7 linked regions of the Homo sapiens genome follow. The protein of the gene in region 3 purifies or fractionates together with the protein of the main gene of each other region. This does not show direct contact. Each region holds a gene or a part of one and is shown on either strand. Other genes may lie near its edges.

Region 1 (3,500 bases), on a different chromosome or scaffold from region 3:
TTTTCTTTTTAAATTTATTTTTATTTTTAAATTAAATTAATTTATTTTAGACAGGGTCTCACACTGTGTCACTGGAGTGCAGTGGCGCAGTCACGGCTCACTGCAATTTTGACCTCCCTGGGCTCAGGTGATCCTCCCACCTCAGCCTCCCAAGTAGCTGGGACCATAGGCATGTGCCACCATGCCCGGCTAATTTTTGGGGGGGGTATTTTTTGTAGAGATGGGTTTCTCCATGTTGCCTAGGCTGGTCTCAAACTCCTGGGCTCAGGTAATCTACCTGCCTCAGCCTCCCAAAGTGTTGGTACTACAGGTGTGAGCCACTGTACCTAGCCTTTTCTTTTTTTTTAGAGACAGGATGTTGCTCTGTTACCCAGGCTAGAGTGCAGTGGTGCAATCATAACTCACTGCAGCCTTGAACTCCTGTGCTTACCCAATCCTCTTACCTCAATCTCCCAAGTAGCTAGAATTACAGGCACATGTCACCATGCCCAGCTAATTTTTAAATATTTTATAGAGATGGGGTCTTGCTACGTTGCTCAGGCTGGTCTTGAACTCCTGGCCTCAAGTGATCTTCCCACCTCGGCCTCCCCAAATGCTGGGATTATAGGCATTGAGCCACTGTGCCTGGCCTAATTTTGTAATGTTTTAATGTCTCTCATCATAAATAATTTTTTTTTTTTTGAGACAGAGTCTCGCTCTGTTGCCTAGGTTGGAGTACAGTGGTGCAATTTTGGCTCACTGCAACCGCCACTTCCCGGGTTCAAGTGATTCTCTCCTGCCTCAGCCTCCTGAGTAGCTGGGATTATAGGCATGCACCATCATACCCAGATCATTTTTTGTATTTTTAGTAGAGATGGGGTTTCACCATGTTGCCCAGGCTGGTCTCAAACTCTGGGCCTCAAGCGATCTGCCCACCTCGGCCTCCCGAAGTGCTGGGATTACAGGCATGAGCCACCATGCCTGGCCCCATAAATAAATTTTAAAAAAGGCTTTCTAGAAAAACACTGCATACACACACAAAAAGATTCTAAAAATGTGAATTTTAGGAGCAGTGAAAGAGATATTTTTGGAAAGATTGGATTTTTGCTGATTCTCTAAAAATAGCTGTTAGCTATTCCATCTACAACAAAACTCATTCCTGATGAGACCATAAATGAATATTTTTACTTTTGAATTAATAAAATAAATTCTATTTGGTAATTTGAGGAAGGCATATATGTTAAGGAAGTAAATTCTGGTATATATACCCTGACAACAGCATCTGGCTGTAGTTCTGTGGAAAAATTTCAGAGTGTTTCTGGGATGGGTAATAATTCCCTTTCACCCGTTCAGCTATTGCTGGTGGTTTTTCCTTAGTCGTAATACTCCATGTTATATGGATGAGAAGACAGTAGTACTTCTGAAGCAATGATTTCCAAACTTTTGGATTTCAGTGACCAAAACAATAACAAAAATCTTGATCAACCTCAGATTGTTGGTTTTTTTTCTAGTGTTTTTTTGAGGTTGTCATTTTCTAAGATTTCCAAATAAGGCTTGATATTAAGTAAACCATTTATGATCATAATCCTTTTGTGAAAGAAATGGCATTTTAACACCAAAGGATTAGGAAGGTTGTAATTTTAGAATAAAAGAGAGTCCTTTAAATTAAATCTATTTAGCTCTAAGAAATGCTCTGTGAACTGTTCTATTTTTCTTCTTTTGTTGAGGACCCCTCATGGACTAATACTGATTCCTCAGTTACAAGGTCTATTGTTTTGGGCTATTTACCTCAAGCTAAGAATGAGCTCTGCAGTTTAGTCCAGGGTATCATACACAAATTATCATTTTATATGTTGCCTTAACTTGAAAAGGGTGGTATGCCACTGGTGTAGAGCAGAGGCTCTTAATGTGTGCTCCCTGGAGAGCAGCATCAGTGTCATCTGGGAACCTATTAGAAAGGCAAATTCTCAAGCCCATCCCAGGCTTACTAAAATCAGAAACTCTACGGGTAGTGTCCAGCAGTCTGTTATCATAAGCTTTCTAGGTGATCCTGAGGAGAACACCAGTTTGCAAACACTACTGTAAGGAACAGAGGTCTGGACCTGAGAGTTGAAAAGCCTATGTTCAGTTTCTATCTTTCACTAACTACAACCTTCTTCTTTTTTTTTGAGATGGAGTTTTGCTCTTGTTGCTCAGGCTGCAATGCAGTGGCACAATCTCAGCTCACTGCAACGTCTGCTTCCCACGTGCAAGCAATTCTCCTGCTTCAGCCTCCCGAGTAGCTGGGATTACAGGTGCCTACCACCATGCCCGGCTAATTTTTTGTATTTTTAGTAGAGATGGCGTTTCACCATGTTGGCCAGGCTGGTCTTGAACTCCTGACCTCAGGTGATCCACCCGCCTCTGCCTCCCAAAGTGCTGGGATTACAGGCATGAGCCACTGCGCCTGGCCTACAACCTTGAATGAGTCACAATGTCTTCATGTTCTAATTGCCCTACCTATGGAAAAGATAAAATTGGTTTCCTGCAGCACAAGGTAGTTTTGAAAATAAGTATGTGAAAGCTCCCCAAGTTCCTCACAGATAAGTCAACATGACACTATCCATCCAAAGTGGTGGTAATAACAACTTCATCCTGTTTTCATCAAGCTACTCCAAACTGTCATACTCATAAAATATTCTAAGCCTGTTTTTCAAGGTTTGAATCACTCCACCCAACATGGTGATATTAAATATTTAATGAGTATAGTTTTTATTCATTCGTTCAATCGTGAACAAGAACTTTAAGCAATACTAAGCCTAGTATCATTTTTCCTGAAAAAACTATATTTTTATTAGCTTTGAAGCACTCATTAGCTTTCCTCTCCCTTTCTTGAAAATTCTTCTAAGAAATTGTGCATTTATATAAAGAAAGTAGACTTAAATAGAACTTTGGGTAAATGCAAAAAATTTACTAAACCCATACAAATTTTACTGATTATATTCCCTGCTTTCTCTACCATCACTTATTTTAACATAAGAATAGCATTCTTAATTCTCCCAAGATAAAACATGATTTTATCAGAACAATTTAAGTAATAGCTTCTGCAGTTCCCTGTGAAGATAACTATGCCAGACACTGAATCCCAAATTCCACTGGCATCTACAGAATCATCCTTTTATCTACTAGACTCATTAATGCTTATGGAAGGCATAGGTAGTTTTAAGTAGATTTAAAAATTTTCATTTGAAAAGTTTGCCTTGCCCCTTGTGAGCTGAGGCATTATTCTAATTTTTCAGCAAGTGCCACAGATAATTCCATGCAGGTGGAATCTGTTATGGTTTTCACATATCCAGTCCAATTACACACACACACACACACACACACACACACACACACACAAATATGTATAGTGTTTTGGAATCATTGTTTTAGAAAAACAGATTAAATATTAGATTAAAAAATAGGTTAAAACCCCCAAAACTTAAATCTAATCTTAGTGATGTTTACATTTATGGCCATCTGCCTCAGTTTCATGACTT
Region 2 (3,500 bases), on a different chromosome or scaffold from region 3:
AGTGACAAACCACAGTCTTCTCAAGAGCACTCTGGTTTCAAACACACCTGGTATGTACGAGGCCTCGTGATGAGCTCCCGACATGCCCACAGCCCCCACTGGACTCTCAGACCCCACTGCTCACCTTGGCCGCTCAGGATGCCGGGAGGTGAAGATCATCACCCCCTTTCACAGTTGGGGAACAGGCTCAGGGAACGCCATGAGCTGGCCAGGCCCCCGCAGTGCCAGGGGGAATGCTGGTTGGGTCCTAAGCCTTTCTTTCCTTCCCAGAGTTCTGCCCTCGAAATCCTCCAGTCCCACCTCAGCCCCGTGAGGCAGACCCGTTGTCTACTTCCCAAAGCCAACGGGAACCTTCACCAGGGGGCCATCTGCGGCCAACATGGCCCAGCTCCCAGGCTGGCTGCGACTCAGGCTCAGGGCACCCCCCTCCCCTAGCAAAAGCAGGGCGGGAGGGAAAGGGATCCTCCACCTGACCTGCGAGAGCAGCTTAATGTTTCCATATAAAGGAGATACAGGGCTTAAGGTGCTTCAACTTCGTGTCAAAGTCACTGTCTAATCTGAGGCCAAGAAGCCCCGCCCCCAGGCCCCACCCTCACCCTCCCAAATCAACACTCTCACTCTTCCGAAACCAGGGGTGTTCCCCACCACTCCCCACCTACTGGTGGGGGCTGGACAGCAGGTTGGAAAGCAGAGACTACAGAAAGACAAAGAGATGCAGAGATAGGCAGGAGGAGGGGTGTTGAGAGGGTGCCCCAAGAAAAAGTACAGGGACCAAGCAGGACAGGGACCCTGAGAGAGAGGGGGACAGAGACCCAGAGAGGGCAGCAGGAAAGGGACATTGATCCAGAGAGAAAGGGACAGAGACCTTGAGAGAGGACAGAGACCCAGAGAGAGGGGAACAGAGACCTTGAGAGGATAGAGACTCAGAGACAGAGGGGGACAGAGACCCAGAGAGAGGGGGGGACAGAGACCTAGATGGAGGGGGACAGAGAAGATAGAGGCGGACAGGGCAATTGGGAAAACGAAAAGGAGAAAAGAAATGTTTTAAGAAATGGCGACATGGGGAGATGAAATTGTGAAGACAGAGAGAGGCAGAGAGAGATGGGAGAGACAGAGATGGGGGAGAGAGACAGAGACAGAGACAGACAGACTGAGAGGGTTTCTCTGAAAGGATGGAAGCCAGTGAGAAAATGCATAAAATGGGGATGGGGTGAGAGTTGGAGGCACTGAACCTGGGGGTGGATTCTCCTGGCGCTGAGCCTGTCACTGATGGGAAGACAAGGCCTTCTTGAAGGGGACAAGCTGAGGACAGGGATGCTGGGGCAGGGGTGGATGGGGGCGACGCAGCAGAGCAGGAGGGGATGGCTCAGCGGTGCCTTGCATGGAGGCACGTACCTGTTGGGGCGGCCCACCCCCATGCCCTCCGCTGGGGGCTCCTCGGCTAGGGCTGAGGGGAAGCCTCTGTGGGTGCTGAGGGGCTGTAGTCTGTCCTTGGTCCCAGGGGCCGTGTGACGGGCACCCGACCTCGGAGTCCACAGATGGATCAGAGGCTGGATGGAGGGGGGCCGGGGGTGGGGCTAGCTCAGAGCCGCAGAGGGGGAGCCAGGGAGGCCAGCCAGGCAGAGCGGCTGGGCCACAGCCCAGGCAGGCTGGACAGGAGACAGCGGCGGAGGAGCGAGACAGCGACTAGGGGGCAGGGAGACTGGCAGTGGGGGACGGGAGACTCTGAAAGAGGGGGACACAGAGAAGAAAGAAAGAAACGTGATAAAGGGGAGATGGACGGAGGGAGAAATGGGGGGTCCAGAGTTCCCTGAGATGAAGCCTTCATAAGCTGGTGGGGGTCAGGGATGAGGCCCCTTTCACTAAGCCAGAGTGAGTTCCAGATGGAAGGACACTTAGAGAAGGCAGAACGCGGCGGCACCCAGTGGGCGGAAGGTTGGGTTGCACTGGACTCCCAGTGGCCTCCCCCAGCCTAGCGGCCTGGGGGCAGCTGGTGCCAAATTCCTCCCCACCCCCAAACTCCCCCCACACCCCGTTTCCTCATAGGGCTGTGGCCAAAGGACCAGAGTCTCAAATACACCTCAGGCCTCTTCCTGGTCCTTTATTGCTGCTCAGGAGCCCTGACCTTCCTCCCGACACAGCACCAGCCTCTAAAGTCAGGGAGGAGGGGAGAGGGTCGCATGTAGCCCCCACACGGAGAAATCCTGGCCAAACCCAGCTGGCAGGAAGACAACGGGCAGAAGCAAATTGTGTTGGAGGAACCCACACCTCCAATTTGGTGCAGCCACTGTATATCCCCCGAGTCCCCTGCTGGGAACCAGCAGCCAAAACTGGGTCCTGAGCCGGACGCGGTGGCTCACGCCTGTAATCCCAACCCAGCACTCTGGGAGGCCGGGGCGGACAGATCACTTGAGATCAAGAATTTGAGACCAGCCTGGCCAACATGGTGAAACCCCGTCTCTACTAAAAATACAAAAATTAACGGGGTGTGGTGGCACATGCCTGTAATCCCAGCTACCTGGGAGACTGAGCTGAGAGAATCACTTTAACCCAGGAGGCGGAGGTTGCAGTGAGCCAAGATCGTGCTACTGCACTCCAGCCTGGGCGACAGACCAAGACTCCGTCTCAAACAAACAAACAAAAAACTGGGTTCTGGGGACACAGGTCAAATGGGTCACAGCTGACAGGAAGGAATCCGACACACAGGCCACACCAGGCCACACAAGTCTCTGGGTGGGAGTGGTCTTACAGAGCCCTGGTTAAACCGAGTTCTTTGGTGAGAGGGGTCACTGGATCAGAGCCAGGCCTTCTAGAGAACAATACGTCAAACAGAATCCATCACGGCAGCCCACAGGCCGGCCAGTCTCAGTCAACAGACCTGAATGAACCCCTTCCAGGGGAGCCCAATTCGACTTCAGTTTCCAAGCAGGAAGCAAGATCAGAGCCAGTGGGACGCCTCAGACGCTGATGGTGCGGAAGATGGTGAAGCCTGACAGCGCCGTGCTGACCAGGAGCCCTGGGCACTGCGGGTGCCAGTGCAGCTCCTTCAGCTCGGTCTCGCCCTGGTGCACGAACAGCAGCTGCTGCGGGAGGTCGGCCAGTCCGGGGTCGGCCTCCACGTCGCCCGCCTCAGGGTCCCGCTCCACTGCCAGGTCCCACTGTGTGATCTGGTGGTCTGCACCCGAGGCTGCAAAGACCCCGCTGTCCTGGGGGTGCCACTCGACGGAGGTCACGGGGGCCACGTGCTGCTTGAAGGTGGCCACTGGGGAACCAGACTAGAGGGAGAGGATGGGAGGAACGGGCTCTGAATGCCTCAGCCTGACTCTGGGGAGGACCCAGGCAGAAGCCCCAACCCTTCTCCAGCCTCAGGGTTCAGCCAGGGCCCCACCCCTTAAGCCCTCACAAGCCCAGAGTCCAGGAAAGGGACACAGGGTAATTCTGGCTGCTAAGAAGGCTGACCAGCCCAGGGGTTGCTGGGAACTGTGATTCACCTGCAAAGA
Region 3 (3,500 bases):
TCAAAGGAAGGAGTGGTTGAAGAGGGTTAATCGTCATCTCTCTGGCTTTAGGTGCCCTGCAGCCTTGGCAAGGGCATTCCACTTCCTGACCTGTGTTCATTCAAGCAGCCACCCTGGGAGGTGCGCTGGGTGGGGACAGTTCTTCCTGTTAAGAACGCAAGTGGTGGAGGGGGCCTTTGTCAAGGTCAGAGACAAGCACCCTGTGAGCCAGAGGCCAACCAGTCCCCAAGGTCAGCTGCCTGCCAGGCCATTCTAAAAGCACCAGTTCTTCCAGGAAGCTGTCCCCAGCCTTCCCAACCGGGAATTAACCTCTGGGCCTCAGTTTTCTCATCTGTGAAATGGAGATGTGAAAAGTGAGCGAGCCTTGATGACAGTCATAATAAAGATGGTTAATATCGACTCTCTTTCTCTCATATAAAAGTCATGGTCTAGACCGGGCGCTGTGGCGCATGCTTGTAATCCCAGCACTTTGGGAGGCTGAGGCGGGCGGATCGCTTGAGGTCAAGAGTTCAAGACCAGCCTGGGCAACATGGTGAAACGCTGTCTCTACTAAAAATACAAAAATTAGCCGGATGTGGTGGCATATGCCTGTAATCCCAGCTACTTGGGAGGCTGAGGCAGGGGAATCACTTGAGCTGGGGAGGTGGAGCAGAGATTGAACCACTACACTCCAGCCTGGGCAACAGAGTGAGACTCTGCCTCAAAAAAAAAAAAAAAAAAAGGGGGGGGGGGCGGGGTTTGCTCTGTTGCTCAGGCTGGAGTGCAGTGGTGTGATCATAGCTCACTCCAGCCTCAACCTCCTGGGCTCAAGCCATCCTCCTGCCTCAGCCTCCTGAGGAGCTGGGGCCGCAGGTGTGTACCACTGTGTTACATGCCAGGTCTAGCTCAAAGCCCTTCACCTGGATTAACTCATCTTTCCCCCAAAAGCCCTACAAGGTAGACACTATTGTTGGCCCCATTTTACAGGCTGAGAAACGGAAGCACAGAGAGCTGGAGTGACTTGCCCCAGGCCACACAGCTAAGGGGAAGCTTTGTAAATAACAGAGGACCTTACTGGAGTATTTTTTTTTCTTAGCCTACCCCAGAAAACAGGAAGGAATCCTCACCCTACTTGTCCCAGCCCTGACCAGGTGAGGAAAAATGTCAGCCCTCTCAAGAAAGAGGGCCTCTGGAAAGGGAGAGGCAGCCAGCTCCGACTCCAGCACCTCCTCCAGGTTGCCTTCCTGGCTTGACTCTGCCCAACCCAGCTTTCCCTAGAATTCAGTGTGGGCCTTTGGGGCGTGGGGGTGGTGGGGGGACCAGGCCTGCAGAGGACTACTTCCGTGTGCACCAACCCCATGCCCACTTGGGGATGGGGGAGCGTACTATTAATAAATACCTTCTCTCATATGAGTCAGGAGGGTCAGGTTCCATTCACTCATGCACATTCTGGGCAGGACTGTTCAGGGCAGCCTCCACATCTCGAATTGACGCCCACATTTCCCTCTCTGGGTGTCAATTTCCTTATCTGGGAGAGGGGGTGATAACAGTGATAACCCTCCCCCTAATCTGGAAGGTGAAAGCCCAGGAGAAGGGAGGCAATGCTTAGAGCGGGAGCAGTGCAGGGGCAGGGGTGGAGTGGGGGGCAGTGCCGGGAGGCAGGAGGACTGCTATTGTGGTTACTGTTGAAACTTCCAGGAGAAGTTAATAGCCTGGCATGGTGGGTGGTCAGAACCCCAGAATCTTTGGACCCAGAAGCTTCAGGGGCCTCCCAGCCACCAGGTGATACCATTACCCTCCACATTCTACCTAAAATGATACCAGGGCTGAAAGGGTCCATGTCACCTGCCCGTAGTCACAGAGGGGGCCCATCCAGCCTCTGCAGATGGGCTTAGAGGTTAAAACAGCCCAGGTAGACCAGGCGTGGTGGCTCACACCTGTAATCCCAGCACTTTGGGAGGCTGACATGGGAGGATCACTTGAGCCCAAGAGGCTGTGGCTGCAATGAGTTATGATCATGCTATGGCACTCCAGCCTGGGTGACAGAGCGAGACCCTGTCTCTAACCATTCCCCACCTCAAAAAAAAACCCAGGAATTACATGCAAAGGATGCACGTGCTTCTGGTGAGGAAGTCTCTAGGCCTGGGCTCCCCCTAGAGCCGCCCATCGTCCTGACGTGCACTCAGGCGGTGCGGCAGGGCTGGGCGGAAGGGAGGCTCATGCCGCACACAGGGCTATTTTCTTGGTGGGATGAGGCTTTGCCAAGGAAGTCCTGCTTCCAGGGACAGGGGTCTCTAAGGCCCAGAGCAGAGTTGAGGAAAAAAGACCTCAAATCTGCAGGAGGACACACAGGGCGGGTGGACCCCAGCTCCAGCTGCGGCGTTGGTCAGGGAGGGGTACTGGCAGCATGAGAAGTGAAGCTGCCAGAAGAGGAACCCACTTTTACTCACTCTGCTGGGGGCCGCCCACCTGTGCTTTCCCAGGGAGACAGGGGCTGGGCAGCCCCAGCTGGGAGTTGAGACCACCTTCTGGGTGACCCCAGCCTTGTCTCAGCCCAGGCCTCCGGTGCTTCTGGGGCTCACAACACACATCTGTCCCTGGTTCCTTGTCTTAGCAAATCCTACTCCATTGCCTAACAATTTTCTTTCTGTTCCCATCTCAGGCTGAAAAGGGGACCACCGCTCCCCGGGCAACCCCTATCCCATCCTGTGCCCCTCTAACCCTGGACCCCACACCTTGGCCCTGATGAGCTCACTCTCCCGTCTGTGTCTTCACAGCCCACCTCACCCCGCCTCCCCCGGCCCAGGAAACTTCAGACTTCACCGCAGCTTCCTGCCTCAGAGGATGTCAGGGCCCCGGTGAGGCCGACAGAGCAGTGAGTGCCATGGCCCCCGCCCCTTCCCTTCTGAGCCCTGCGAGCCCCGTCACCCGATCTGCCCTCCCTCCGCTGTGGTGTCTGTAACTACTTCCTCAGGAGGGAGACAGCCACACGGGCCTTCCACGAGGGCCCCTGTGGGCAGCGTCCGGCCCCTGCCCAGGACCAGCGTTTGGTCCTGGGTGTGGAGAAATTCAGCCTCTGAGAGCCACCCCTGTCTCACAGCTCTGGTGGCCACCAGTCGGGAAGATGCCCCTTCCGCCACTGTGTGTGGCCCATTGGGTTCTAGAACTTTCTACAACTACGTTTACTAGACTCATTTCTGGCTTGGCCATTCCCTCACCCTCTTGGCCTTTGCCTCTCTCTACGTGGCCGCCTGGCCATGGCTTTCTGTCCTGTTCTCCTGAGAGCCGTCCACCTGCAGGCCGAGATGAATCATCTCCGGCATTCGGATCCACTACCCATTCATTCCATCACCTTCCAGGCCTTGCTCCATGACAAGCACTGGGACCTGGGCTCTCCCTGGTGGCACTCACTGACCAGGGGATTTCCTCCTATGAGCAAGCCTTCCCTGGTCACGGGGGGATACCCTACAGGGAGCAGCCAGATCTCTTCTCCCTGGGTGCCCCTCCTTGGGGTCTGTCAG
Region 4 (3,500 bases), on a different chromosome or scaffold from region 3:
TTGAGCTGCATCTCCTGAATCTCCATCTTCTCCTCATCCTTCATGGCCCGGTTTTCTATCACCTTCATTCCTCTGCAAGGAGCAATCTCATCAGGACGGCCGTTCACTCACACCCCTCCACCCACCTCTCATCTATCTTTTCTTTCAGATGGAGTCTCGCTCTGTCATCCAGGCTGGAGTGCAGTGGCACGATCTCAGCTCACTGCAACCTCCACCTCCCGGGTTCAAGCGATTCTCCTGCCTCAGCCTCCTGAGTAGCTGGAATTACAGGCACCCGTCACCATGTCTGGCTAATTGCGTGAGACACCACCCCTAGTCCCATCTCTCATCTAAATGAGTCTCTGAATCTACTGAGCACTGTAACACACTGCAAAGATGGAACTCTGTGCACACATTTCCTTCATCTTGGTTTTTTTTTTTTTTTTTGAGATGGAGTCTCGCTCTGTCACCCAGGCTGGAGTGCAGTAGTGTGATCTCAGCTCACTGCAGCCTCCATCTCCTGGGTTCAAGCAATTCTCCTGTCTCAGCCTCCAGCATAGCCGGGACTATAGGCATGCACCACCGTGACCGGCTAACTTTTATATTTTTAGTAGAGAGGGGGTTTCGCCATGTTGGCCAGGCTGGTCTGGAACTCCTGACCTCAAGTGATCTGCCCGCCTTGACCTCCCAGAGTGCTGGGATTACAGGTGTGAGCCACCGCGCCCAGCCTCCCTTCATCTTTACTACCAGGCACTTTTCTAAGTGCCTTCACTTTCACAACTGCCCTATGGAGCAGGTAAATTATCCACATTTTACAAATGAAGAAACTAAGGCATAGAGAGAGGGTAAGTAACTTAAGGTTACAGAGCTGGTAAGTGGTAGAGCTGAGGCTCAGCCCTTGGCAGTCTGACTCCAGAGTCTGTGCCCCCTTTCTTTTTCTTTTATTTTGAGAGATGGTGTCTCACTCTGTTGCCCAGGTTGGAGTGCAGTGGTGCCCTGAGAGCTCACGGCAGCCTTGTCCTCTCAGGCTCAAGCAATCCTGTTGCCTCGGCCTCCTGAGTAGCTGGGACTATAGGTGTGCACCACTGCACCCAGCTAAACTAAAAAAAAATTTTTTGTGGAGGTGGGGGTTTTGCAATGTTGCTGAGGTAGGAGGATCGCTTGAGCCCAGGAGTTCAAGGCTGCGGTGAGTCGTGATTGCACCACTGCTCTCCAGCCTGGGTGACAGAGCAAGACGTTGTGTATTTATTTATTTTTTTTCTTGAGACAGGTTCTCACTCTGTTGCCCAGGCTGGAGTGTAGTGGTGTAATCATAGCTCACTGCAACCTTGCCTTCCTGGGATCAGGTGATTCTCCCACCTCAGTCCCTTGAGTGGCTGGGACTACCAGCATGCACTACCATGCCTGGCTAATTTTTAATATTTTTTTGTAGAGATGGGGTCTCACTATGTTGCGCAGGCTGGTCTCAAACTCCTGGGCTCAAGCGATCCGCCCGCCTCCCAAAGGGCTGGGATTACAGGTGTGAGCCACCGCACCCTGCCAAGACCTTGTGTATTTAAAACAAGAAAAGAAAAGAAAAGAAGAGGCCAGCCTGGGATAATGTGTCATTGATATGTATCATTCCCACCCAGCACAGAGACCATATGCTTCTTGCTGTCCAATAAATATGTTCACGTGGGGTGTCACCCGTTCTCAGCTAAGTCTCAAAACACCCTCCCCCACCTGTACGAGGTCTCACCCTCAGCATGTGAGCAAGCTCTCTGGGTTATTTATTGCCCCAAAACCCCTTGTAGTACCCAAGAGATCAAAGTGACTTGCCTAAGGCTCCATAGAAAGTGCCAGTGGTAGAAGCTGACTCTAGATCCCCAAGCTTCAAGTATATAATTCTTTCTACTGAGACACAGCAGTCTTTAACAGGGGTGTCACCAAAGGCCTCTGGGGACATGGTGCAAACAAGAGACTGGCCTTCGCAGCCTCCCTTGGTTTGCCAATATGGGAGCCCTCAACGTCAGCATCCAGCCAGGCTGGTCTGACTGTGAACAGCAGCTAACCCAGGCCACAGGCACAGCCAGGAACTCTCGTGACTGGGTCCTTCCACTGCCCCGTGGCTGCCGGAGCTGCCACTCTCTCCCTTGATTCAGTGGCTGAAGCAGAGTCTGCAGTAGCGTCTGTTCCCTCTGCCCTGGCTGTTCCACTACTTGGGAAGAAATTTCCAGCTTGGGTGACATGCAATCTCCAAGATTCCTTAGCTGGTTTCTAATCTCTGGTTAGTGGTCACAGCAGCACAACCAGAAATGCATCTTAAATTAGCTAGGCGTGCCAGCACTTTGGGAGGCCAAGGCAGGTGGATTACAAGGTCAGGAGCTTGAGAACATCGTGGCTAACACGGTGAAACCCTGTCTCTACTAAAAATACAAAAAAATTAGCCGGGTGTGGTGGCGGGTGCCTGTAGTCCCAGCTACTTGGGAGGCTGAGGCAGGAGAATGTCGTGAACCCAGGAGGTGAAGCTTGTAGTGAGCTGAGATCACGCCAGTGCACTCCAGCCTGGGCGACAGAGCGAGACTCTGTCTCAAAAAAAAATTAGCTGGGCATGATGGCATGCGCCTGTAGTCCCAGCTTTACTCTGGAACTCTGGAGGCCGTGGCGGGAGGATCGCTTGAGCCCAGGAGGTCGAGGCTGCAGTGAGCTGTGATCGCACCACTACATTCCAGCCTGGGTGATAGAGTAAGACCCTGTCTCAAAAAAAAAAAAAAAAAAAGAAATGAATCTTTGGGAGGTGTTTATACTGCAAAAGCATGGTGGCTGGCTCAAGTGAGAACTCCGGTGTGAATGAGGGGCAGACGCGATGATCACTGGTCGGGCCCACACCATTGCCACACAAGGAACTCCTTTTCCACCACACACAGACTGCTGCTTCTGTGAATTACACAATCTACCCTCAGTCTTCCAGAGAGCCTGTGCCAAGGCGTGCCAGAGAATGATCTGGCTACCGAGGAGAAGGCACCCTACTGGTGGCTGGGTTGCAGCACAGATACCATGGGCGGGTGAGGAACGTGGTCAGTTTCTTTTTGAGACAGAGTCTCACTCTGTTGCCCAGGCTGGAGTGCAGTGGTGCGATCTTGGCTCACTGCACCCTCTGCCTCCTGGGTTCAAGCTGGGGGATCTTGCCTTAGCCTCCTGAGTAGGTGGGATTACAGGTGCCCGCCACCACGCCCAGCTAATTTGTGTATTTTTAATAGAGACGGGGTTTCACCATGTTGGCCAGTCTGGTCTCAAACACCTGACCTCAGTTGATCCACCCGCCTCGTCATCGCAAAGTGCTGGGATTATAGGCGTGAGCCACGGCACCTGGTGCATGGTCAGTTGCAAGTACATTAACCATGCTGGTTTGCAACTGTCCCTGAAATAGCTGTCACCGTCCAAAAGCCTAAAGCCTGACAGCTCTGCTAACAATCACCTGTGCATCCCAAGTTTCCTTTCCTCCTCTCCACAGTACTCTGCTTTTTTTTTTTTTTTTTTTT
Region 5 (3,500 bases), on a different chromosome or scaffold from region 3:
ATGCCTGTAATCCCAGCACTTTGGGAGGCCAAGGTGGGCGGATCACGAGGTCAGGAGATCGAGACCATCCTGGCTAACAGGGTGAAACCCCATCTCTACTAAAAATACAAAAAAAAAAATTAGCCGGGCATGGTGGTGAGCGCCTGCAGTCCCAGCTACTTGGGAGGCTGAGGCAGGAGAATCGCTTGAACCCGGGAGGTGGAGGTTGCAGTGAGCCGAGATTGCGCCACTACACTCCAGCCTGGTGACAGAGTGAGATTCCATCTCAAAAAAAAAAAAAAAAAAAGAAAAAAAAAAAGTAAAGAATAGATGAACTCTAATGAAATAATCTGGGTCTATCTTTTACCTCCTCCATTGTCTGGAGTAATAAAGCTCCCTGCCTCGCCCTCTCTCACAGCACTGAGCCACTTTTCCTGAATTTTCCCACACTCCTGATCACTCACTTGTTAATTTCAATGCATAAATTCTTTTTGAGAAATAAAGTCAGTTTGCCGACTCCTCCCGCTGCTTTGTTAGAAAATGAGCTTACACCGCGCTGATCTCACTACTGCTGCCAAAGTTCCTTCTAGGGGTCTTTCCTTTGATAATGTAGGGATTATGTAGGCATGGGGAGGTGGGATGCCAAAGGCAGATTCTGTCAAGGTGCTGTTCCCTCCCCACCCCTGCCAGTTCAAAGTCATCGAACTGGGGGGCCTCTCTGACCTCCTGGACTGTGCAGACCACCGTGTCTTCTAGTAGGGTCAGGGGAGGGCTTGAGATAAATCTGTAGGGCTCTTCACTCAACCACCAACCCACTGTCCAGCTCGGGTGCCCCAAGTGCCACCTCTGCTGGGCTCTGTGTGGATGCATCAGTGACAAGATGGGAAGCCTCTGGCCCTGGAAGAGCTTGTTCCGATCAGGAGAGACCCGAAAGCAAGAAACACAGTGAACAAATGCATGATGCCCATGGATGGATGGCCGTAAGTGCTAAGGAGAAAAATAACAAGCGGGGTGGGGGGTGTTGAGGGTGTGGAGGACAGGGAGGGGCTGCCATTGACAATCGGAGAGCCTGCAGACCTGCCTGAGAGTGACGTTTGGAGAAAGAAGGAAAGGGAAGAAGTTGAGGGAGTTTAGCCAAATGGACATCTGGGAAAGAGCTCAGGTAGCAGAGGGGCTGGGGCGGGGGCGCGGCGGCAGCATGCTGCATTCCAGGGTCCTCTGCGTGGCTGGGACAGTGTCGGCCCTCCCCTGCACATCCCTCAGAGCCTTCGCAAAAACACCCACATGGGGACCTTCTAAATACAGGCAGCACACGCCACCCATTGCGTGACCACACTGTCCCTCAGAGGAGCCGCTGGCCACGTGCGTCCCGTCCACATGGAGATGTGCTTTAAGCTTCTTTACACACTGGGTTTCAAAGACTTACTACGGAAAACAGTGTAAAATATGAATAATCTACAATAATTGATTGTTATCAAAATAGTGGATTGAATATAAAACATAGTTTTTTGCTTTTACCGGTTTTTACTTTTTTTTTTTTTTTTTTTTTTTGAGACGGAGTCTCGCTCTGTCGCCCAGGCCGGACTGCGGACTGCAGTGGCGCGATCTCGGCTCACTGCAAGCTCCGCTTCCCGGGTTCACTACTTTTTTTTTTTTTTTTTTTTGCGATAGGGTCTCACTCTGTTGCCCAGGCTGGAGTGAACTGGTGCAGTCACAGCTCACTGCGGCCTCCAACTCCTGGGCTCAGGCAATCCTCCCACCTCAATCTCCCACGGGGCTGGGACTGTAGGTGTGCACCGCCACGCCTGACTAATTGTTTTGTATTTTTTGTAGAGACTAGGTCTTGCCATGTTGCCCAGGCTGGCCTCAAACTCCTGGGCTCAAGTGATCCACCTGCCTTGGGCTCCTGAAGGGCTGGGATTACAGATGTTGAGTCTTGGCACCCAGAGTCCCCCACTCCCGGCCCCCTGCCCCGCCTTTCTTTAATGCGGCAACTAGATCATTTAAAATTGCATATATAACACAGGCCACCCACATGCAAGCCTCACTCTTGGGAGATTCTCCCGTTGGAGAAACCTCCAAGAAGCTGATCTGCCTGGATTTGCAAACTGCCCCACTGGCTCCAGAGGGAAGCCGCTCTGGAATCGGCTCTTCAATACTGCCCTTGAGTATACTGTGTACCTCTTGACTTTCGACCAGCACAAAGCTCCTTATTAAACGCTGACAAAAATTCCTTCCATTCTGTTGGGAGCAGGCCCCCCCAAATCTGGCCATAAACTGACCCTAAAACTGGCCATAAACAAAATCTCTGCAGCACTGTGACACGTTCATAACGGCCCTAACGCCCAGGCTGGAAGGTTGTGGGTTTATGGGAATGAGGGCAAGGAGCACCTGGCCCACCCAGGGTGGAAAACTGCTTAAAGGCATTCTTAAGCCACAAGCAGTAGCATGAGATATGTGCCTTAAGGACATGCTCCTGCTGCAGTTAACTAGCCCAACCTATTCCTTTAATTTGGCCCATCCCTTCATTTCCCATAAGGGATACTTTTAGTTAATTTGATATCTGTAGAAACAATGCTGATGACTGGCTTGCTGTTAATAAACACGTGGGTAAATCTCTGTTCTGGGCTCTCGGCTCTGAAGGCTGTGAGACCACGGATTTCCCACTTCACACCTCTATTTGTGTGTGTGTGTCTTTAATTCCTCTAGCGCCGCTGGGTTACGGTCTCCCCGACTGAGCTGGTCTCGGCACATTCCAGGTGCCATAATGGAATTAATTAATCTCCTATTGATAGTTTTTTGCTGGTTTTCCCACTTTTTGCTATTCTAAGCACTGCTATGAAGATTCTCCTTTAACCCCCACCTGCCTGTGTCTGTTGGAGCTCACATGCTCTACCTTCCAGCTGTAACAGCTGAGTGCCCATTCACCCCAAGCCCTGACACACTCAAGTCTCTGGGTCCCCTTGGCGGGATGTGTCTGTGGACACAGGGCTGCCCTGCCACGTGCCCCACCCCATAACCTTCCATCTGTGGCCTGCTCCTTGTGATACCCTAAACTTGTGGCCTCCCCTCCCCTCCTCTCCTCTCCACAAAGCCACCCTTATCGGAGACAGTCAGTCTGCTTCCCTCCACCTGCTTCCCAGTTCACCCAAGGCAAAGCCAAAGTCCTCCACTGGGCCACTCTCCTCTACGGACTCCTCCCTCACTGTCAGGTCAGGTCAAAGGGCCCCAACCAGAGGTTCCCCTGGGCCCTTTCATAAGACAGGAGCTTTTCCTCTCAGGTCAGGCTACAGGCACGTCGTACCCGCACCTCACCACAGGAGTGACAGCTCCAGGCAGAAAGGGCCTGGTTCTTTTGCCAAAATCCTGTCCTGACTCACCCAAGGCAGTCTGTTAACATGCACAATGATTACAGAAACACAGAAATAAGGCTGGGTGCAGTGGCTCCAGCCTGTAATACCAGCACTTTGGGAGGCCAAGGCAGGTGGATCACTTGAGGTCAGGAGTTCGAGACCAGCCTG
Region 6 (3,500 bases), on a different chromosome or scaffold from region 3:
CTTTGGCCTCCCAAAGTGCTGGGATTACAGGCGTGAGCCACCATGCCTGGCCAGAGCCTATTTCTTTTCTTTTTTTTTGAGACAGAGTCTTGCTCTGCCACCTGGGATGGAGTGCAGTGGTGTGATCTCAGCTCACTGCAACCTCTCCCTCCTGGGTTCAAGTGATTCTCCTGTCTCAGCCTCCCAAGTAGCTGGGATTACAGGCACGCACCACCACGCCCGGCTAATTTTTGTATTTTTTTTAGTAGAGATGGGGTTTTGCCATGTTGGCCAGGCTGGTCTCGAACTCCTGACCTCAGGTGATGCGCCCACCCACCTTGGCCTCCCAAAGTGCTGGAATTACAGGATGAGCCACCATGCCTGGCTGGAGCCTATTTCTGAAACAACCGAGCCCTGTGCTAAGAGCCTGAAAGAATAGCTAGGTGCCCTGCTGATACAAATGTGGGCTTGGTCACTTCTCAGCTGTTCAGACAATCTGTGTCAAACACTCCTGTCCACGGGGTCAACCCCAACCACAGCCGGGACTGTCACTCATGGTGACTCGTCTAGGCTGGCTCACGATAGGGTGCTATCCAAAGTCAGACACGCCAAGGGCATGTGTTCTGTCATTCTGTGTTGGAAGGGCCCGCTGGTGGCATTAACCTTTGTTTCCTGGCCCCACCCACACCGGCTCTCACTCAAGTACTTGGTCAGCCACTGAGATTCCAAACCCTTTGGCCATTCAGAGGCTGCTGATAGGTGCCACCAGGCCTGGGCTGCCAGGAGACCTAAGGATGGTCTGCAAGGCCTGCTGAACTGACACTGCCTCAGCGTGACCTTGGCTTCCATGCACAGTGCTCCCCGGGCTGCAGGCTGGCACCCTGTCTCCTCACGAGCTGCTTCCTGTCACAGCTTAAGCTTCAGCTCCTGCCAGGCCCCCCCAGCCCTTCTACTCCACTGGGACAGCCCCTAGCGCCAGCTCCCGCAGCAGCCTGTGCTCGCTCCGAGACGACACAAATAACTGATGTTTATTTTTTGTTTGCGTGCTCTGCTTTCCCCATGAAGGCTGAGGAGTGGACAGGGGCTGTGTGTCACTCCCCGCCAGTACCCGGCATCCAGCACTGTGCTGAGTGCACTTCAGGCTCAGTAAACCCCAGAGGGGTAATCCCAGCACTCTGGGAGGCTGAGGTGGGCAGATCACCTGAGATCAGGAGTTTGAGACCAGCCTGGCCAACATGGTGAAACCCTGTCTCTAATAAAAATACAAAAATCAGCTGGGCATAGTGGTGCGTGCCTGTGATCCCAGCTACTCGGGAGGCTGAGGTAGGAGAATCATTTGAACCTGGGAGGTGGAGGTTGCTATGAGCCGAGATCATGCCACTGCACTCCAGCTTGGGCAACAGAGCGAGTCTCCGCTTCAAAAACAAAAACAAAAACAAAAAACCCTAGAGGGAAGCCAACAAGCCTTAGAGCTCTATCCCCCAACACTCCATTTCTGAGGCTGCCTCCTTTGCTTCAGCGGTAACTTCCTGTGTGCTGTTTCTGTGTTGTAAGCACAGTCAAACCCTTCCTGAAAGTAGATGGGGTATAAACCACAAACAGAACAGGTTTAGAGGGAGGCCGGGTAGAGAATCTTAGTTAAGAGCAGGCTGCACGCGGGTGCTGACCAAAGACTGGTTTCTATAGAGGGAAACAGCGCAGTGCAGGTCTGCCTGTGAAGTGAGCTGGGAAGGGTCTCGGGCAATCCTGGGGCCCTGAGTGCCAGTCTCAGAGCCCCATGGCCCTGCCTGGCAATAGGCTGCTCCCCTCACCCCAGGGTCTACCTTGGCCAGCCGTGCCCGCTTGATCAGGTCATTGAGCTTCCTGAGGGCGGCGTTTCGGGGCAGTGACTGGATGTCCTTGAAGAGGTCCTGCTCCTCGGCCTCAAAGAGCTTGCGGTTGTCGGGGATGAGGAGCGGGTGGGACCAGAAGGAGCCGATGTAGACCCTGACCACCTCGGGGGTGTTGATGATCTTGCCCAGGGACCACATGAGGGCCCCGTACACCCGCATCAGCTGCTGCGTCTCGATCTGGTCTGCCTTGTTCAGCACCACGCGGATCTTGTCCTCATGGTTCTTCAGAGCCTTGATCACTTCCGAGAACTCATCGGAGATGTCCAGCTTGTGGGCGTCGAAGAGCAGGATGATGCGGTCCACACGCTCCGCGAACCACTCCAGGACGGCTGCAAAGTCATAGCCTGGGGGGAAGAGAAGGGAGAGCTCAGGGGCGCCAAGGGACCTGCTGCTCTGATGGCTCTCATCTCCAACCTGGCCTGGTATTTCTCAGCCTGAGATAGTTTTTAAAATTCCTATAGGCCGGGCGTGGTGGCTCACGCCTGTAATCCCAACACTTTGGGAGGCCAAGGTGGGAGGATCACGAGGTCATGAGTTTGAGGCCAGCCTGGCCAACATAGTGAAACCCTGTCTCCACTAAAAATACACAAATTAGCCGGGCAGGGTGGCGCGAGCACTCAGGAGGCTGAAGCAGGAGAATCGCTTGAACCCAGCAGGTGGAGGTTGTGGTGAGCCAAGCCCATGCCACCGCACTCTAGCCTGGGTAAGAAGAGCAAAACTGTCGCGAAAAAAAAAAAAAAAAGAAAAGGCCAGGCACAGTGGCTCACACCTGTAATCCCGACACTTTGGGAGGCTGAGGTGGGTGGATCACAAGGTCAGGAGTTCAAGACCAGCCTGGCCAACATAGTGAAGCCCTGTCTCTACTGAAAATACAAAAATTAGCCCGGCATGGTGGTGGGCACCTGTAATCCCAGTTACTCGAGAGGCTGAGGCAGGAGAATTGCTTGAACCTGGGCGGCAGAGGTTGCAGTGAGCTGAGATTGCGCCACTGCACTCCAGCCTGGGCAACAGTGTGAGACTCCATCTCAAAAAAAAAAAAAAAAAATAGCCGGGTGTGGTGGCACATGCCTGTAGTCCTAGCTACTCAGGAGGCTGATGCAGGAGAACTGCTTGAAACCAGGAGGCAGAGGTTGCAGTGAGCCGAGATTGTGCCACTGCAGTCCAGCCTGCGTGACACAGCGAGACTCCGTCTCAAAAAAAAAAAAAAAATTCCTAGGTGTTCATCTAGACAGCACAGCACCCTGAGGGCAGGATTATCTCCCCTATTCCTGCCCCCACCATAACACTCCCCAACCCATGTAGCACTTGGCATAAACAGGTGCTAATGCAAAGGTCGTCCCACAGTGCAAGCTCTAAGGTGGGTCAGAGGAGGGCGAGAGTGAGGAGGAGACCCAGCACTGTGCTCAGCACAGCACAGAGGGTAGAACATAGACTCCAGTGTTGCCACCTGCCTGCTGTATGCCCTGGGACGGTAGTGACAAGAGGCGCCTGCAAAAGTAACTGCAGCTGCTACTTTTTCAGTGCTGATGTGCCAGGCTCCCCATTTTGCAGGAATCTCACTTATTTTCTGCAACAAGGGTTGGCAAACTACAGCTCAGGGATCAAACCTGGCCCACCACCTGTTTGTAT
Region 7 (3,500 bases), on a different chromosome or scaffold from region 3:
ATAATCTAGATACTAAATCAGCTGCTGAACTGCTGGCCTGGGTACTCACTATTGTGATCTTTAAAATAGCTCATTTGTTCATTTATTGGTTATCTACCATGTGCCAGACAGCGGCACAGCCAGCCACAAGAATGGATTTTTTTCTAACTCTGTGAGCTCTGGACATCATATACTATCTAGGTACCATTTAATTTCTAAATATCAGTAGGCTGCATGGTCAATGCCTGGCACAAAGAATGTTTGACACTGATGCTGATAACGGTGGTGGTAAAAGTAATAACAACAATAGCAGCAGCAACAACAGCAACCCCCATTTACCGAGTGTTTCCTATATCCCATGTATCAGCTAAGCACATTATATACATGATCTCACTGAATCTTCACAATACTTTCAGGTAAATATTATCCCAGTTGTTAGGACCTACAATGCTGGGTTTCTGAAAAAGACACTCTGAAGTTTTCTAGTGAACAGTTTCCTCTGGAACTTACTTTTGATTTACTGTGTCGTATAAGGGCAGACAGCAGTCTGTTTGACTCCCCCATCACACCAGCATGATCTTTGGCTTCACACCATTCCACCAAACGCTCCACTAACTTAACATTCTTTCCCAATTGTTCAGCAGCTTCTGCTATAGGAAAGAAGGCAAACCAAGGAATGAATCACTAACAGACAATCAGTTGAAATAATTCGTACAGATTTGAGAGTGTGAAGGACGTCTAAAAAAACACAGCACGACAATTTCATTAAAGCTAGAACTGCAAATATTCCTTATGTGATGGGCTATTTGCCTTCTTCTGTAACACTGTGAAATTTTATAGAAAATACAACAACAAATGACTTCATACTCTTTTGGTTAAGCCTGCTAGTCTGTTAGTGCTCTGGCGGACTATAATGCAGGGTTCTTAGAAAGACTCTATGCAATCAATATAGAAAAGGGTTTAAAATTTAGAAATAAGTAAATAAACATAATTCATTCCTAGGAGTGGTTCTGACTGCTGTTTCTGCAAACAGAAAAATGCTCTCCCTGTCTGGAAGACAAATTTAAAAAATTTTTGACTGTCACAATAATGAAATTTGATTTCAAAGCCAAGGTAAAAATGGGTATAGAATGCCAAAACACAACACCCCCTGCCGAAACTGATGAATAAAGCAACCTAAAACCAGGACTATAAGTACTAATAAGGAGAGATATGGTATAATTTCTATTTAAAGTCAATTATAGGCTGGACATGGTGGCTCACACCTGTAATCCCAGCACTTTGGGAGGCTGAAGTGGGTGGATCGCTTGAGGCCAGGAGTTCAAGAGCAGCCTGAGCAACAAGCCCCATGTCTAGTGAAATTCCAAAACAATTAGCCAGGAGTTGTGGAGCATGCCTGTAATCCTAGCTACTCAGGAGGCTGAGGCAGGAAAATTGCTTGAACCCAGGAGGCGGAAGTTGCGGTGAGCTGAGGTCGCACCACTGCACTCCAGCCTGGGTGACAGAACAAGACTCTGTCTCAAAAATAAATAAATAAACAAATAAATAAATAAATAAATAAATAAATAATATGTATAAATAAATAATTATAACAAGCATAAAAATTAACAAATGGAGTTCCAAAACCAACTTTTAAATCTTTTATTTGCTATTTTTTATGATTACATAATCCTAAAAGCTAAAAACAAGTCCTTTTTCAACTAGAGGCACATTAAGACTATCATATGAAAAATGCAAGTTGGGGAAAACATTTCTTTTACCTTGTGCATCTATTAACATTCTTAATGTTCCCAGAAGTTTGAACTGAACAGGAGGCATTTCAGATTTAAGAAATTTCAAAACTGCCTCTGTGACCCCAGCTGATAACATCTTTGCTTTATTTATAACTGGAGAAAAAGAGAGACTATGGTTAAAATGGTATTAGCATTCCTGTTGATAAACATTCAATTCAATACAGGTTTATTAAGTATCTTTAAGATCCATGTTTTATTTTTCCATTTAGAAACAATCTTGTCACTTTTTTGTCAATTTTAAGAATGGAATTCAGTTGTTTATGTGTGTGTCCGTATCCTATTTGTGTATAAGCGGATAACAGACAATATAATAATTTTTATGACAGTATCATGGCTTTTTAGATCCAATCCAAAACACTTACTTACATAGTTTGTAAAGGAAATCTGAAAATGTTACCCTCTTACAACAAAAAGCACAATTCCGTTTTTGATCCAACTGTGTTAATATAAATGTTATAGACATTAATAAATGTTACTATCCTATGTAAACCAAATGAATTCAAATGGATTGGATCATCATGTAATTGTACTATTTCATCTAATCAGAAATTTATTTTTAGAAAGTAGGATAAAAGAATAGTTTTAACTATCTTTTGTTGTATTTTCCATAATACAGTGATTTCATGACTTCCAAAGGCACATTAAGGCTATTTTAAAAAAATTGTACATCTGCTTATAGAAAAACAACAACTGAAAGTCATTCTTGAGTGGACTCTGTTAATTGATGTCATTATTCTACCTCAACTAAAGATGCCTAAGGCCTGGTGCAGTAGCTCTCACCTGTAATCCCAGCACTTTAGGAGGCAAAGGTGGGTGGACTGCTTGAGCCCAGGAGTTCAAGACCAGCCTAGGCAACATAGTGAGATCCTGTTTCTACAAAAAAAAAAAATCAGCTGGGCATGGTGGCACATGCCTGTAGTCCCTGTTCCTCAGGAGGCTGAGGTGGGAGGATAACTTGAGCTCAGAAGGTAGAGGCTGTGGTGAGCCAGGACTGCGTCACTGCACTCTAGCCTGGCTGACAGAGTGAGACCCCATCTCAAACTTAAAAAAGCTTAACTATAAAACATGATGAAAATCTAACAGTTCGCAAAAGGTAACAGGATATCTGAATGAAGGCAAAGATTATTCTTGTACAGTCTCACAAAACTTATTTAACATATGATCTCCATTTATTAGCATGAAAAAATGTGAACAATGTGAAGACTATTTTTTTTTAAATTTTCTTCATCAGAGCAGGTTCACAAATCACATACAGTTAATAGCTTCCCCAAATGATGGATTTTATTTTGTACACAGCTGCCTTCTATTCTTAAGTCTTACCTGGAATGGCCAGGTTTCTGAGGGCACTTAGTGCTGCATGCTGTACTGTTACATTTCCATCTTCTACATGTCTGTCCAGTAAATCCATAAGTTTTTCTACAATCCCATTGTCTACCATATGAATACAATTTGCATCTGAAAAAAAAAACACACATCTTTTTCTTCCTCTTTAAAATATCTATAAATACTTTATAATACTGATGTCTGGCTATTATCTACATTAGGGAAAATGGAGCTATACAATAAAATGAATTCCAAATCTTTCTCCCATCAGATTTATAGGTTTTTCTGTTTACTGAGTGAGAAGTGTTAAAAAAAATTCTTAAACTAGATAAAAGTTTTAAAATCAGAAAATTACCAGAAAAATCTTTAGTTTAGAGCCAGATAATATATCAGAAGTAGAAACAC

The links.
Region 1: the proteins of RHOF (region 3) and PHACTR4 purify together in Homo sapiens (affinity purification with mass spectrometry, with the first as the bait; one study listed by BioGRID). This does not show direct contact.
Region 2: the proteins of RHOF (region 3) and GRWD1 purify together in Homo sapiens (affinity purification with mass spectrometry, with the first as the bait; one study listed by BioGRID). This does not show direct contact.
Region 4: the proteins of RHOF (region 3) and TPM4 purify together in Homo sapiens (affinity purification with mass spectrometry, with the first as the bait; one large-scale study listed by BioGRID). This does not show direct contact.
Region 5: the proteins of RHOF (region 3) and PFKP purify together in Homo sapiens (affinity purification with mass spectrometry, with the first as the bait; one study listed by BioGRID). This does not show direct contact.
Region 6: the proteins of RHOF (region 3) and EHD1 purify together in Homo sapiens (affinity purification with mass spectrometry, with the first as the bait; one study listed by BioGRID). This does not show direct contact.
Region 7: the proteins of RHOF (region 3) and RAP1GDS1 purify together in Homo sapiens (co-immunoprecipitation; 3 studies listed by BioGRID and IntAct, with this or other methods). This does not show direct contact.

The regions. Positions count from the first base shown.
Region 1 is NC_000001.11:28,467,240-28,470,739, reverse strand, and holds part of PHACTR4 (phosphatase and actin regulator 4), read right to left. Parts: intron 1-3,500. UniProt on the Homo sapiens protein: Regulator of protein phosphatase 1 (PP1) required for neural tube and optic fissure closure, and enteric neural crest cell (ENCCs) migration during development.
Region 2 is NC_000019.10:48,452,483-48,455,982, reverse strand, and holds part of GRWD1 (glutamate-rich WD repeat-containing protein 1), read right to left. Parts: intron 3,276-3,500; coding exon 2,958-3,275; 3' UTR 1-2,957. UniProt on the Homo sapiens protein: Histone binding-protein that regulates chromatin dynamics and minichromosome maintenance (MCM) loading at replication origins, possibly by promoting chromatin openness.
Region 3 is NC_000012.12:121,787,189-121,790,688, forward strand, and holds part of RHOF (rho-related GTP-binding protein RhoF), read right to left. Parts: exon of another isoform or gene 2,967-3,500; intron 1-2,966. UniProt on the Homo sapiens protein: Plasma membrane-associated small GTPase which cycles between an active GTP-bound and an inactive GDP-bound state. Causes the formation of thin, actin-rich surface projections called filopodia.
Region 4 is NC_000019.10:16,082,995-16,086,494, reverse strand, and holds part of TPM4 (tropomyosin alpha-4 chain), read right to left. Parts: intron 73-3,500; coding exon 1-72. UniProt on the Homo sapiens protein: Binds to actin filaments in muscle and non-muscle cells. Plays a central role, in association with the troponin complex, in the calcium dependent regulation of vertebrate striated muscle contraction.
Region 5 is NC_000010.11:3,074,048-3,077,547, reverse strand, and holds part of PFKP (ATP-dependent 6-phosphofructokinase, platelet type), read right to left. Parts: intron 1-3,500. UniProt on the Homo sapiens protein: Catalyzes the phosphorylation of D-fructose 6-phosphate to fructose 1,6-bisphosphate by ATP, the first committing step of glycolysis.
Region 6 is NC_000011.10:64,858,122-64,861,621, forward strand, and holds part of EHD1 (EH domain-containing protein 1), read right to left. Parts: intron 2,216-3,500; coding exon 1,803-2,215; intron 1-1,802. UniProt on the Homo sapiens protein: ATP- and membrane-binding protein that controls membrane reorganization/tubulation upon ATP hydrolysis. In vitro causes vesiculation of endocytic membranes. Acts in early endocytic membrane fusion and membrane trafficking of recycling endosomes.
Region 7 is NC_000004.12:98,418,384-98,421,883, reverse strand, and holds part of RAP1GDS1 (rap1 GTPase-GDP dissociation stimulator 1), read right to left. Parts: intron 3,228-3,500; coding exon 3,093-3,227; intron 1,866-3,092; coding exon 1,740-1,865; intron 630-1,739; coding exon 490-629; intron 1-489. UniProt on the Homo sapiens protein: Acts as a GEF (guanine nucleotide exchange factor) for the Rho family of small GTP-binding proteins (G proteins) that stimulates the dissociation of GDP to enable subsequent binding of GTP.